Linked DNA regions of Homo sapiens: all the other regions are reported to be linked to region 3. The links are microRNA targets in miRTarBase. Many come from high-throughput screens and were not tested one by one. Region 3 holds a microRNA gene; each other region holds the end of a gene's coding sequence. Distances are between the middles of the regions.
Evidence for each region. Region 3 holds the annotated microRNA hsa-miR-6797-5p (AGGAGGGAAGGGGCUGAGAACAGGA, at 2,256-2,280, opposite strand). A microRNA usually pairs through its seed, bases 2 to 8, with sites in the 3' UTR of a target mRNA and lowers its output. Matches are read on the target gene's strand: a 7mer-m8 pairs with bases 2 to 8, a 7mer-A1 pairs with bases 2 to 7 and ends in A, and an 8mer does both.

Region 1 (3,000 bases), 14 Mb from region 3:
GGCCCGTCTGCTCACAGAGATCCACGGGGGCGCCGGCGGGCCCAGCGGCAGGGCCGAAGCCGGTCGGGCCCTGGCCAGTGGCACTGAAGCTTCCTCCACCGACCCTGGGGCCCCAGGGGGCCCGGGAGGGGCTGAGGGTCCCATGGCCAAGAAGCATGCTGGCGAGCGCGATAAGAAGCTGGCGGCCAAGAAAAAGACGGACAAGAAGCGGGCGCTGCGGCGGCTGTAGTGGGCTCTCTTCCTCCTTCCACCGTGACCCCAACCTCTCCTGTCCCCTCCCTCCAACTCTGTCTCTAAGTTATTTAAATTATGGCTGGGGTCGGGGAGGGTACAGGGGGCACTGGGACCTGGATTTGTTTTTCTAAATAAAGTTGGAAAAGCAGCTTCTGTGTCTCACAGATGCCCCAGGACCGCTGCATGGTGCCATGTGGCTCTGGGAGTTTGGCTCCCCTGCACAGGCCCTGGGTCCTTGTAAAGCCTCATGGACTGCAGCAGTGGGTCCATCTAGCTCACCAGCCTTGCTGTTTGAGGTTTGGGTCCACCTCTTTGTTCTGTGGAGGTAGAGCGGTCACAACCCCTCTTTGGAGTCAGATTTCCAATCTAAAATGGGGCGAGGACCTGGAGCTGCTCCTGGTGGCCTGAGCGGCACTGCCCTATACTTCTCCCTCTAGAATAATGGCCACGTTGGTGTGGCAGTGGTGTTCCTGCTCAGGACGGCCAGGTGCCAGCAGTCTGGCATGAGGCTCGCCTCGTCTGTCTGGTTCTGGACTGGGCCAAGGTTCGGTCCCCTTGAATCATCTGATCCTGCTTTGTGCTAAAGATTGGTTTTTCCCTTGTGGGCAGCAAAGCCTGTTCCCACATGTATTTCTGCACAACAGATCACAAAGCCAGCGGCTTAAAACAACACCCACTTCAGACTTTGTGTTGGAAGTCTGGACACGGCTGAGCTAGTCTCTGCTCAGTGCTTTGCAGGCTAAAATTGAGGTATTGGTTGTTGGTGTTCCTTAGTCTGGGTCCTCTTCCATGCTCATGGTTGTTGGCTGATTTCAGTCCTCGTAGAACTAGGGTCTTAGCTCCAAGAAGCTGCCCCTCCTTGGGCCCTGGCAGGTCTGATTTAAGGGCCCATTCCCTTTGAGGTGCTCACCGGATTAGGTCAGGCCCATCCAGATACTTAAGTGATAATGACTAAATCACAGGGGTAAGATCCCAGCTTAGTCTTAGTTTCTGCCCTCAAGGGGAAGGGATTAACCTGGGTGTGCACACCAGGGGGTGGGGAAACTTCCCATTCTATTAATGCGTTTAGGTTATTTAGACCAATGTCTCATTAATTTTAAAAAAATTAAAAATAGGCCAGGCGCAATGGCTCACGCCTGTAATCCCAACTTTAGGAGGTGAAAGGATCACTTGAGGCCAGGAGTTAAAGACGAACGTGGGCAACACAGTGAGATCCCATCTCTACAAAAAGTAAAATACATTTACAATAAAAATCTACAAGTTCTGACCCATAGGAGAGTGGAAAACTCAAAGGCTGCTTTTGTCCTGAAAGAATTTGCCTATTCTAATAAAACAGCTGAGGTTGAAACGGCTCAGCCTCTGAAAGGGGTCTGACCCTTCCTTGAGCCCTTGCCTCCAGTGACAATCTCCCAAGCTAAGGGAGAAAAGGAACCAAAAGTCTGCACTCCTCTCTACCTCTAGCAGTGCAGGGAGCGAAGGAAAGACAAGGGAAGAAACCCTTCAGATTTTCAGATCAAATTCACATCACTGGCCATCCAAGAAATCTTAAGCTCTGCGTTTATCGTCAACCATTTCTGCATGAGGGAAGCAAACAGTCCTTGCTGAAGGAAGGTGCCTGCATCCTGGGCCTCGGAACCCACTGAAATAATTTAGCGAAGTGCATAATAAAAATAATATTTGCCCTTAGCCCTGACAGAGTTCCTCAATCCCTTGGAATCTCCTGGGTATTAATAGGAGCAGTCTTTGTCCTAATGAAGCCATCTGTGATGGGCCCCTGCGTAGCTTCAGGAAGGGGGTTGGTCACTAGAAATACCAAGACCGAATTAGACAGTTGGGAATTTCAGCCCCACCCATACCTACCAACCTCTGGGAAGAGAGGGGCTGAAGGTTGAGGTCAATGACCAATGGTCAATGATTTGTCTAATATGCCCATGTAATGAAACCTCCGTTAAAACACTAAACAAGGTTGGGTGGGGTGGCTCACGCCTGTAATCCTAGCACTTTGGGAGGCCAAGGCGGGCAGGTCACCTGAGGTCAGGAGTTCAAGACCAGCCTGGCCAACATGGTGAAACCCTGTCTCTACTAAAAATACAAAAATTAGCTGGACGTGGTGGTGCATGTCTGTAATCCCAGCTACTTGGAAGGCTGAGGCAGGAGAATCTCTTGAACCTGGGACACAGAGGTTTCAGTGAGCTGAGATCCTGCCACTGCACTCCAGCCTGGGTGACAGAGCGAGACTCTGTCTCAAAGAAAAGAAAAGAAAAGAAAAGAAAAAAATTAGCCAGGCATGGTAGTGTGCGCCTGTAATCTCAGCTCTTCGGAGGCGGAAGTGTGAGGGTCACTTGAGATGGGCAGGTTGACGCTGCAGTGAGCTATGATCGTACCACTGCACTCCAGCCTGGGTGAGAGAGGGAGACCCTTCCTCAAAACAAACCGGGCACGGTGGTTCACCTGTAATCCCAGCATTTTGGGAGGCCAAGGCTGGTGGACCACTTCACGTTGGGAGTTCAAGAGCAGCCTGCCCAACGTGGCGAAACCTCATCTCAACTAAAAATATAAAAATCAGCCAGGCATTGTGGTGCATGCCCATAGCCTCAGCTATTCAGGAGGCTGAGGCAGGAGAATTGCTTCAACCCAGGAGGCAGAGACTGCAGTGAGCCGAGATTGCACCACCGCACTCCAGTCTGGGCAACAGAGTGAGACTCTGTCTCAACACCCCCGCCACTCCCCTCAACACACGCAACAAAATGTATAAAGAGTTCCTAC
Region 2 (3,000 bases), not on the chromosome of region 3:
AGAGGAAAAGCAAGAGTTAAAAGAGAAACTGAAGGAAACAGAGACACACCTGGAAATGCTGCAGAAGGCTCAGGTCTCCTACCGGACCCCAGAGGGAGATGACCTAGAAAGGTTAATTACTAGGGTTTAGTTATCAGCTTGTGAGTGCTAATGGGAAGCATCCCTTAGGACCCCCACTTACTGGCCGTAGACAAAGGAGGAAGCCTTAATTCACAGGCCACCAAGAATTGAGTAATTACTTCTTAGAAAGCTGCAGCCAGTCTCCCTGTGCTTGGTGGCGTTGTGCTTTCTTCTTTCTAGCTAATGAAAACATAACTGTTGAGAAATGTGGTTCCATTTTGAAGGGGCTTCATTTTATTCTGTTGGTTAATGACTTCATGTCATCTCTTCTCCTGCCCCCTCACTCCTTCATACAGGGCTTTGGCAAAGCTTACGCGGCTACGTATCCACGTCAGCTATCTCCTTACTTCTGTCCTCCCTCACTTGGAGCTTCGTGAGATCGGGTATGACTCAGAACAAGTGGATGGGATCCTGTACACGGTGCTGGAGGCAAATCACATACTGGATTGAGCACCAGACTGTATACCCTTCTCTTCTCTTATCTTCTGTCTGTTCTCTTTTCTCTCCCTCCCTCACGTCTCTCTCTCTCTCTCTCTCTCTCTCTCTCTCTCTCTCTCACCCTCACCTTTATGCCTTATATAGAGAATCTCTGTGTAAATCCTGGCTCATAATCAGTCTCCTTTTTATCAGTTTTGGTGTGGAGAAAGAGGCCAGTTTAAATAGGCTTTCAAGAGTCTAGGGTCAGAAAAGCAATAGTCACTAAGCTAGGTGACCTGAAAGCTTTAATTTTCATGACCTGGATATGTGGTCTATTGTATATCTTTTTCTGAAATGGTTTGTATTCATTTAGGTTAGATCAATCAGCAGATATTGGGTCCGGTATACCAGGTATTATTTTGGGGTAAGCTAACAAGTACAACTCATGTTTGCAGCCTTCGAAGATGTAACAATCTCGTTGGAAACATAAGACATACATCACATTATACACAAAAGTGTATGATATGTACAACTGAGTGGTACAGATATGACATGGAAGATCTGGGGGAGGAAGTTCAAGGAAGGCACCACACCAGAAATGGGACCTAAATTAAGGCTTAAAGAATGAGCATGGCCACACTGTCAGTGAGTGTTCTTTAGGTGGTAGGACTATGGTTGATATTTTTCTTCTTCCTATCTTCCTGCCTTTTTCAGATTTTCAATATTAAACTTGTTATTCTTACATTGGAAAAAAATAAATTGTTTTTAAAAAGATCAAGTAGGCTTGGATTTGAATATCAAATGAGAGATTATGTGAAAATATAAGGTAATGTTATATTTCTAATTTATATTAAATTTAGCATTACCTCTGGAAGAAGAAAAGCATAAACAAAGGCATGGAAAAATTTGGAATGTGAAAAATGTGTTCGATAGAAGTGGTGGGTTAATATAAAGGGGACTAAGGTTATATCATGATCTGTTCGCCTGCTTTGGTATTCGCATTTTAATAAGGGATTCTTGAAAAACCTATAAGGCTCAAATTAAAAAATATATTTGTCATCAAATTAATGGGATTTCAGGTAGTTAGGGAAGTACTTTAGAGTGGAATCTGATGTCCCTCAGAATATACCTACTTACTCTTCAGGCTAGTGCTGAGTGAGGGGTAAACTTCGTACTATCAGAAATAGTAAAACTTATTCTCTTGTAAAAGGAGACATTGTATTCATTTCTTTATTGTGTTTACATAGCACATACTCTCCAAAGAGTTCAGGGTACTTTTCAAAAGACATTGAATAATGAACACATAAAAATATACCAACAGTAAAAAGTAGGAAGTAGAGGAGAAACAATCAAAGGAAGGTGAGATCAAGCAGTGGCAAAAGGATTAGCTAGTCCAGAGGAAATGTCTTGGATATTCATTCTGTTTCTCCTCCACAGAGTTACTTCAGAACACTTTTCCAAATTAATTTTAACTCCTTCGAAAGGGGGCTCATAGTACATAGCCCAAGTGAGACTGCAGGGAATGAGGGGAGGCCAAATCCAGGCTTCATCATTAGAATGAGTACTTAAAGATACCCCCTGCCCCCTTACCTTCCACCTCACCCCAGCTCTAGCTTGCCATATGATTAATTTTCATGTTAGACATTTGGATTATGATAGTCAAGGCCGCAGTTGTCTAAATGTAAATAGTACCGAGGGAAGAGTAGCACATTCCGACATTCTCTCAGTGAGACTTATTCATCAGATGGGGGCTGTGAGTGGGTGAGATTTCACACAGATGGATGGGAGTCTGCTGGAAGGAAAAATTCAGAGCATTGAAGGTTCTGCCTGTGTGAGTGTTTGTTGGGTGAATGAGGGGACTGAGTAGGAAGGAGGGCAGGCAATGAGGCTTTAAAGGGAAGAAGGTAGGAAATTTGAACTCATCTTTCCTAGTGCTTACTCTCAGCCCATTCCCTGGTTTGTGGACCTGACCCCACACTGCTTTTTCCAGCACCACTGTCTGTGTGAGTCCATTCACTTCAATACCAGAGCCACCTCTTTGTTTCCTATTTACTAAGAAGCCATACCAGCATGAGATCTCCTTGATAGTGTTAAATCCCACTGTGGAAAGATTGAAAAATATCTCCCAGCCTTACCAGAGGTTACGATCTAGTGTGGAGGCAAAAGACATTGAGAAGAAAAAAGCAGGTGCCTCCTCCTGGCTCTCCTGTTAGGTTAACATAATCATAATTCCCCTTTGAAATGTCTCCCACATTTGCCCTTTAACTTCCTATTGCCATGATAAGCATTTAGGTTATTACCTAAATAACTTGTTACCTCATGCCTTGATTATCTAAATAAATTCTTAGATGGCCTCCCTTGCCTCCTGTTCTCCCTCCTCGATCCGCCCTACTCAGTGTCACCAAATTTTGTTTTTTAACAACTTCGTCAGGTCATGCCTCTGCTTAAAGACTTGCTAGTGTT
Region 3 (3,485 bases):
CTACCTTCCAGGGAAGAGCATGAACCCTGGGCCCTCTTGCTTTACTCCAGCGGAAGCCACCTCTGCAGCCCAGGCCCAGCTGAGGTCACAGCTCACAGCCATCCTTTCGTTTCTCACTTTCTGACAATTGCAAAGACAGGATGTGGGGGAGTGAGCCACAAGGGCCCCTGGGTCCTTCCTCCAAACCCAGATGGGAACTGTTTGACCTGGGAAGGCCCGACTGGCTGCCGGGTAAACAGCCACCCAATCACCCTGGGCCCCCTCACCCAAGGGAAGGGAGGAAGCGCCTCTTCCTCATGCCCCTGAAGAACAATCAAGAGACCCAAACCAGACCAGGCACAGTGGCTCACACTTGTAATCCCAGCACTTTGGGAGGCTGAGGCAGGAGAATCATTTGAACCCAGAAGGCGGAGATTGCAGTGAGCTGAGATGGCGCCACTGCACTCCAGCCTGGGCGACAGAGCAAGAGACTCAAAAAAGAGACCCAGACCAGGATTACGAATGAGGCAATTTATTAACCCAGCATGGTTTGTTCTAATGCTTCTTGTTGGCAGCTGCCACCTGTGGGAAAAGATGGAAGAATAAAAGTTAGTCAAGGGGGTCTCTGCTGGGGCACTTTGTAACAGCTACCTAACTACCCACCACAGGTGGGCACCCCGATTTGTGGTTTCAAATGCATCTATCTCATCTAATTCTCACTGTGGGTATTCCCCCATTTCACAGACGTGGAAACTGAGTCTCAAGGGAGTGGCCAGGCACAGTGGCTCACACCTTTAATCCCAGCACTCTGGAAGGCCGAGGCAGGTGGATCACCTGAGGTCAAGAGTTCGAGACCAGCCTGACCAATATGGTGAAACCCTGTCTCTACTAAAAATATAAAAACTAGCCAGGTGTGGTGGTGTGTGCCTGTAGTCCCAGCTACTCGGGAAGCTGAGATAGGAGAATTGCTTGAACCCAGGTGGCAGAGGTTGCAGTGAGCTGACATTGCACCACTGCACTCCAGCCTGGGCGACAGAGCAAGACTCTGTCTCAAAAAAAAAAAAAAAAAAAAAAAAAAAAAAAGGAAGGGAGTGGCGGAGTGGAGTCCAAATTCCGCCCACTGCCATGTGAGAAGGCCAACATCCAACCACCAGCAATGATGTGTGCGCCAAGCCCCACTCTGCCTGGAAGAGCTTTCTCCTTCCAGACCACCCCCAACTCCTAGAGGGCTGACACTTTCCATTCTTTTGTGACACTTGACTGACTAAATGCTCCAAGGCTCCTAGGAGGCCTGAGTCAGTGATACAGAATTGAGCTCATGCCAGGCCCTGGGTGCTCCTGCTGTACTATAGCTCACTGACTCCTCACTACCATGCTTGAGGTGGCCAAGGGTAGATTTTGGCCACAGGGAGGCCAAGACAGGAGACTGTGGCACCAGGGGTGTGGCCACTCTGCCCCAGGGTGTTGGCCAGCCAGGATCTGAATGGAGACCTGGGTTCTGAACCAGCCCCCCTCCCTTATCTCCACCTCTCCCAAGCAGCCCATGTGATGCTCAGTACGCATGAGGACTAAGGGGAAACATCGCAGGCTGACCTGGGGAGGGGGAGTCATCTACGGGTACAGCTATGTGCTCTGTGGATAGATGCCCAGTGGCACCTGGGCTGGAGTTCCCTCCAATTTTTTTTTTTTTGAGATGGAGTTTCACTCTTGTTGCCCAGGCTGGGGTGCAATGGCATGATCTTGGCTCACCGCAGCCTCCACCTCCCGGGTTCAAGTGATTTTTGTGCCTCAGCCTCCCCAGTAGCTGAGATTACAGGAATGTGCCACCACACCCGGCTAATTTTGTATTTTTAGTAGAGACAGGGTTTCTCCATGTTGGTCAGAATGGTCTTGAACTCCTGACCTCAGATAATTCGCCTGCCTCGGCATCCCAAAGTGCTGGGATTACAGGGGTGAGACACCACAGCCAGCCTGCCTCCAAATTTCTAAGCAGCACCAACAGGAAAAGTCAGACAGGACTGTCCTTTCTCCTGTCTCTGGGCAGCCCTCCTCTGACCCCACCAGCACCCTGGGCTGTGCCCTCCAGAGAAGGAAATAAGTCTACCTGACAAAGTATGGGCTTTGGAAATGCTTGGGCAGCGACTAAGGGACCCAGCCCCACCCCAAACGCAGGCCTTACCTGTCCGGCGATTCTGTCCAGATCTCTTTGTCCCTGAGGTGTCAGTTTGCGGCCGCTGTGGGGAGGGAAGGGTCATGCAGGCCCCAGTGAGCACAGGTCCTGTTCTCAGCCCCTTCCCTCCTGGCTGTGAGCCAGGCTTCTCAAAAAGCCACCTGCCGCCAGCCAAGTCCCACTGAGGGCCCTAGTCAGGTGCATTCTAACGAGCTGGGGGCAGTAGTGGGAGCCCCCCTGGGAGCTGACGGGGTGTTGTTTGTGCAAGCATTTAGATCAAAAGCCCCGAAAAATCAATTGGGAAAAGTTAACGAGCAGGCTAATGAAAGCAGATAGTCGCTAAATTACCCTCCTGGAGCCTGGGCTAGTCAGCCAGAGAGGTCGGGGTGAGGCCCCGTGCTGTTTGCTTTTCTGCAGAATCCCCTCCTGCCTGCCTCTGATAGGAGGGGCCTGAGGGGCTGGGCAGACTATGCAGGACCATTCGTTGGGGAATTGATGACCGGGCCTCAAGGCTACTCCATCAATGCAGCCCCCTCTACCCTGCTTACCCATCTTGGTCCTTTTCCACCATTTTCAGCCCCTCCAGGGCTTGGAGGACCCGGCGGGCCACACTCTTGGAGCCTCGGCTGAAGTGGCTGGGCATGACGCCGTTTCTCTGACGTCCCCCATAGATCTTGGTCATGGAGCCAACCCCAGCGCCACCCCGGAGGTACAGGTGCCGCGCTGTGGAAGCTGGGGGTAGTGTGAGAGGGAGATTTAAGGGTCTTGATCAAGGTCTCAGGTAAACAATTCCTTGTGTGTAAACAGCTAATTCTCACTGTTTTATAAGAAGGGAAACTGAAAACACACACTAACACCCAGAAACTGACAGCCCCCTCTCCTCACCCACCCCCCCGGCTAGCTCTTCCTTGACAAACAGCCCTGCACCCTGGGTGGGCACTCCCACCATCTCCAGGGCCAACTTCTTTAGTGGTTACTATCCCAGCAGCACTGCTGTTGAATTGAACCTGAGGTTATGTAGGGGTGGAGCCTAGCTGTGACCATCTCCATGGGCCCCAGAGAAGCAGGAGTGAAGGGACCTATTGCCACTCTCCGGGCCACCTCAGTCTGGAGAGCTCAGGATAACAAGGGCAGGGCAGACACTCTGTGCAGTGGGTGCCCCCTGCTTGGAATGTGTACCAGCCCCTCTGCAGACACAGGGAAGGCTGGCTTGGGCAAGTCCCTGGTCCACCCCAGCCAGCCTCCTTGCCTGCAAAAAAAGCTCCGTAAAATCCAGTCGACACACCAGCCTCCCCAGAAACGCTTGCACGCTTCTATTAACTGGAGCACACATCTG
Region 4 (3,000 bases), not on the chromosome of region 3:
GCTTGTCATCTATGATGGCAAGGAGTGCCGGGCTGAGTCCTGCCTGGACCGCCGGTCTGAGATGCGTCTCAAGCACCTGGACATGGTGCTCCCTGAGGTGGCGTCATCCTGTGGCCCCAGCACCAGCCCCAGCAACACCAGCCCCGAGGCGGGTCCCTCCTCTCAGCCCAAGGTGGATGTCCGCATGATTGACTTTGCACACAGCACATTCAAGGGCTTCCGGGATGACCCCACCGTGCATGATGGGCCAGACAGAGGCTACGTGTTTGGCCTGGAGAACCTCATCAGCATCATGGAACAGATGCGGGACGAGAACCAGTAGGCCCTGTTCTGGGCCCCCAGAACCCCTTCCTCTCCACTGCAGGCAGGGACCATTGTTCTGAACTTGCCGTGAGGACACACAGACTTGCTTTTAAAGGGTTATATTTCTCTTTGGTGTAAACTAAAAGAAATGTTTTTAGCTGTAGCCTGGAATCCATATATATAAAGTGAAGGAGGGCAGACCACACGCCCTCTCAGCCAGGCTCCTCAGCTTTGTGGCTCTGACTGGTGTGTCCAGGCTGCCTTAGGAAGGAAGAGGTGCCCCTGGTGGGCTTGGCAGCAGGGACAGGGTGCCCTTGGACATTGGTTTCTCTTGTCTAGATCTTTGAGATCTGTGGCTGCAGGGCCCTGCTGATTGTAAGGTAAAGCCCTGGGCTGGTGCAGGGCCCCTCCACGCCCACTCTTCCCTTGTTCCCCAGAAGTAGAGGGCTCTGGGTGCCCATTTCTTGGGGGCTTTCCAGTCTTATGCTGTGGGTGTCAGCTAGCTCTTTAATAGGTGCCCTCAGGGCACCACAGGGCTGACTGCACAAAGCTGGACCCATCCTTCGGTCTGACCTTAGCATGGGGCTAGATTAATGAAGCTGGGCTGAGGCCAACTTATGGCAGAGGGCGGCGCCTGGGTTCCCCAGGCACCTGTTGGCACGTGACAGGTTGGCACCTGTCCTATTCCTGAAACAGCCTCTCTCACCAAGTTCCCTTGCCTAAGAAGGCCACTCCCTCCCACCCCACTGAAGTGGGGGATAGTCGGTGTCCTAGCAGGCCTCAGGGCCTCTGGTGGCTCTGGCCCAGACAGTATTTGCAGTTCTTGTGCTATGGGTGGGAGTCTTCTTCCTCAAGTTTCGGCAGCTGTGCTGCTGCTGGATGGGCTGCTCCTCCCAGGGCTCAAGGGCTGTGGTCCGCTCAGGGTCTCATTTCCCCAGGCCAAGTTCAAGGCAGCAGCCCTTTGTGAGGCGCTCTTGGCCCTGGGCCTGGAGGGAGAACTTTAAGCTTTTTTGCTCACAGGGACGTGGTATGGGCCCTGGGTGCAGGTGCCCACATTCTGCTAATGAGAGCTTTGTCTGATCAGTCCTGGGTCCATCAGTTTGTCCATGTGTCCGGCTGCCAGCCCGTCCCTTGGGATCCTTCCCCTGGGGTGTAGCCTTGTTCATTAGTATATACTCATTCCTTCATGCTTTCCTCAGCAGAACACTTCCACTTCTGAGGTGAGCTTTTGCCCCATGCCCTTCCTCCACAGGTGTTGCCTTTTTATAAAGACCTGATAGCAGAATAAATTGGTGTTTCCCTGTTGACCCAGCACCATTTCTGTGGGCCTAGAATATGGCCCTCAACCCTTAGAGTGGGGCAGTGAGGGCTTGAGGAGTGACCCTTCCTTTCTCATGGTTTTAGTCATTTTGGCTGCCAGCCCTTAATGGCACAGATCTGCTGCTTCTAACAGATGGCCAGGAGGTGACACCGATTTCAGCCATTGCCAAGGTTAGCACCCTCTCCTTTGAGCCTAGGGCCACACTGTTCATTGTCACTTTAGGCAAGTGCCTGTTTGGCTTTAAAGGTAAGCCTGCCAGCTGTGAGAAGCCTTGGTAACTGATGGACTCATTTCCTGGTCCTTAAAGATGCAGCCTCTTAAGGGCTCCTTGATGGATGCCATCTCTCCTAGCCCCCAGCCCTGGTGCCACTGGTGGGCAGGTTCCCATTCTTTGGGGCTGGGAGGGACAGCTTGCCTGTTTCTGGTCACAAATTACAGTCTTCTCTCCTGTACCATTCTGTGGCTTCAGCCATGGGGGCAGTAGCCCTTCATTAGTGTAGATAGTCATTCCCTGGTAGGGTGGAGGGTAAGACATAGGGTCTGGAACTGTTTGGGACCTTTTGGGGATGTCCTGTGCCTCCCAGATTCCTCGATTCTGGGAGGAGAGGCTGCCGCATTCTGCTGCTCCTCACAGCGAGCAAAGCTGCACCCACTTACATTCAGTATTTTCCTGGCACTACAAAGAGTGGGAAGGCCTGGGATTTGCTGCTGCTCCCTTAGAGCAGGGCCCCTCTTTTCAGCACTTTGGACACCTGGAGACCCAGCCCTGTTATTTAATGGTAGTGGGCAAGTGTGTGTGCATACTGTCTGCCACTGCTTTCTCCCTGCCCCATGCCAGAGAGCCCTGTCCCTGCCAGGCCCAGCCTTCTTAGCCCCAACTTGGGAACAAAGTGCAACATGGGATCATGGGTTGGGGTGCTCAGGTGAGCCCTCTCTATAGTGCTTCCCTGGGCCAAGCTGACACCAGCCCCTGAGGGTGGGGTGGGACGGGTGGTGCTTAAAAGAGGAAGGGGACCAGTGTAGCAACTTGCCAGGGACCCCACCCCTCCCTCTCTGGGCCTGTGCAGTGAGCATGGGGATTCCCATCAAGGGGCCTGGCACCTGTGCTAGTTACGTAGCCGCTGCTCACGCGCTCACTCCTGACCACATGCACGTTCCCTAGATGCAGACTGCTTTGAACTTTAAAGCTGTACAATTTGGTTATGTTTGTGCTGACTTAAAATATATTTTAATGAGGAAAAAATAATGGAGAACCCTGGGAAGGACCTGGTTCTTTTGCTTCTCGGGGAACTGTAAGCCCTCGCGTTCTGGGAATCGCTCTCTGCTGCTCTTTCCTGGAAGCTAAGCCTGTCTCCACCGCCCGAGGCCTGCGCCGG

Region 1: miRTarBase lists UBE2S as a target of hsa-miR-6797-5p. Seed matches in the 3' UTR shown: 8mer at 277-284.
Region 2: miRTarBase lists MORC4 as a target of hsa-miR-6797-5p. Seed matches in the 3' UTR shown: 7mer-m8 at 625-631.
Region 4: the mRNA of IP6K1 is a reported target of hsa-miR-6797-5p. Seed matches in the 3' UTR shown: 7mer-A1 at 709-715 and 7mer-m8 at 1,036-1,042.

What each region holds. Positions count from the first base shown.
Region 1 is chr19:55,398,665-55,401,664 of GRCh38, reverse strand. UBE2S (ubiquitin conjugating enzyme E2 S) reads left to right here. Exons shown (of 4, transcript NM_014501.3): 4 at 1-1,920. The coding sequence ends at 229. It also overlaps a transcript of RPL28 not described here. Among named protein-coding and RNA genes, the nearest start is that of SNORD157, 2.5 kb to the left of the region's middle.
Region 2 is chrX:106,939,049-106,942,048 of GRCh38, reverse strand. It overlaps MORC4 (MORC family CW-type zinc finger 4), which reads left to right. Exons shown (of 17, transcript NM_024657.5): 16 at 1-111; 17 at 417-1,311. The coding sequence ends at 570. Among named protein-coding and RNA genes, the nearest start is that of CLDN2, 20 kb to the right of the region's middle.
Region 3 is chr19:41,868,427-41,871,911 of GRCh38, reverse strand. MIR6797 (microRNA 6797) reads right to left here and starts at 2,285; the gene lies at 2,214-2,285. It overlaps RPS19 (ribosomal protein S19), which reads right to left. Exons shown (of 6, transcript NM_001022.4): 4 at 2,698-2,881; 5 at 2,159-2,213; 6 at 1-561. The coding sequence ends at 535. RefSeq lists enhancers at 1-126, 367-436, 1,879-2,437.
Region 4 is chr3:49,724,444-49,727,443 of GRCh38, reverse strand. IP6K1 (inositol hexakisphosphate kinase 1) reads left to right here. Exons shown (of 6, transcript NM_153273.4): 6 at 1-3,000. The coding sequence ends at 322. Among named protein-coding and RNA genes, the nearest start is that of GMPPB, 2.0 kb to the right of the region's middle. RefSeq lists a silencer at 3,000.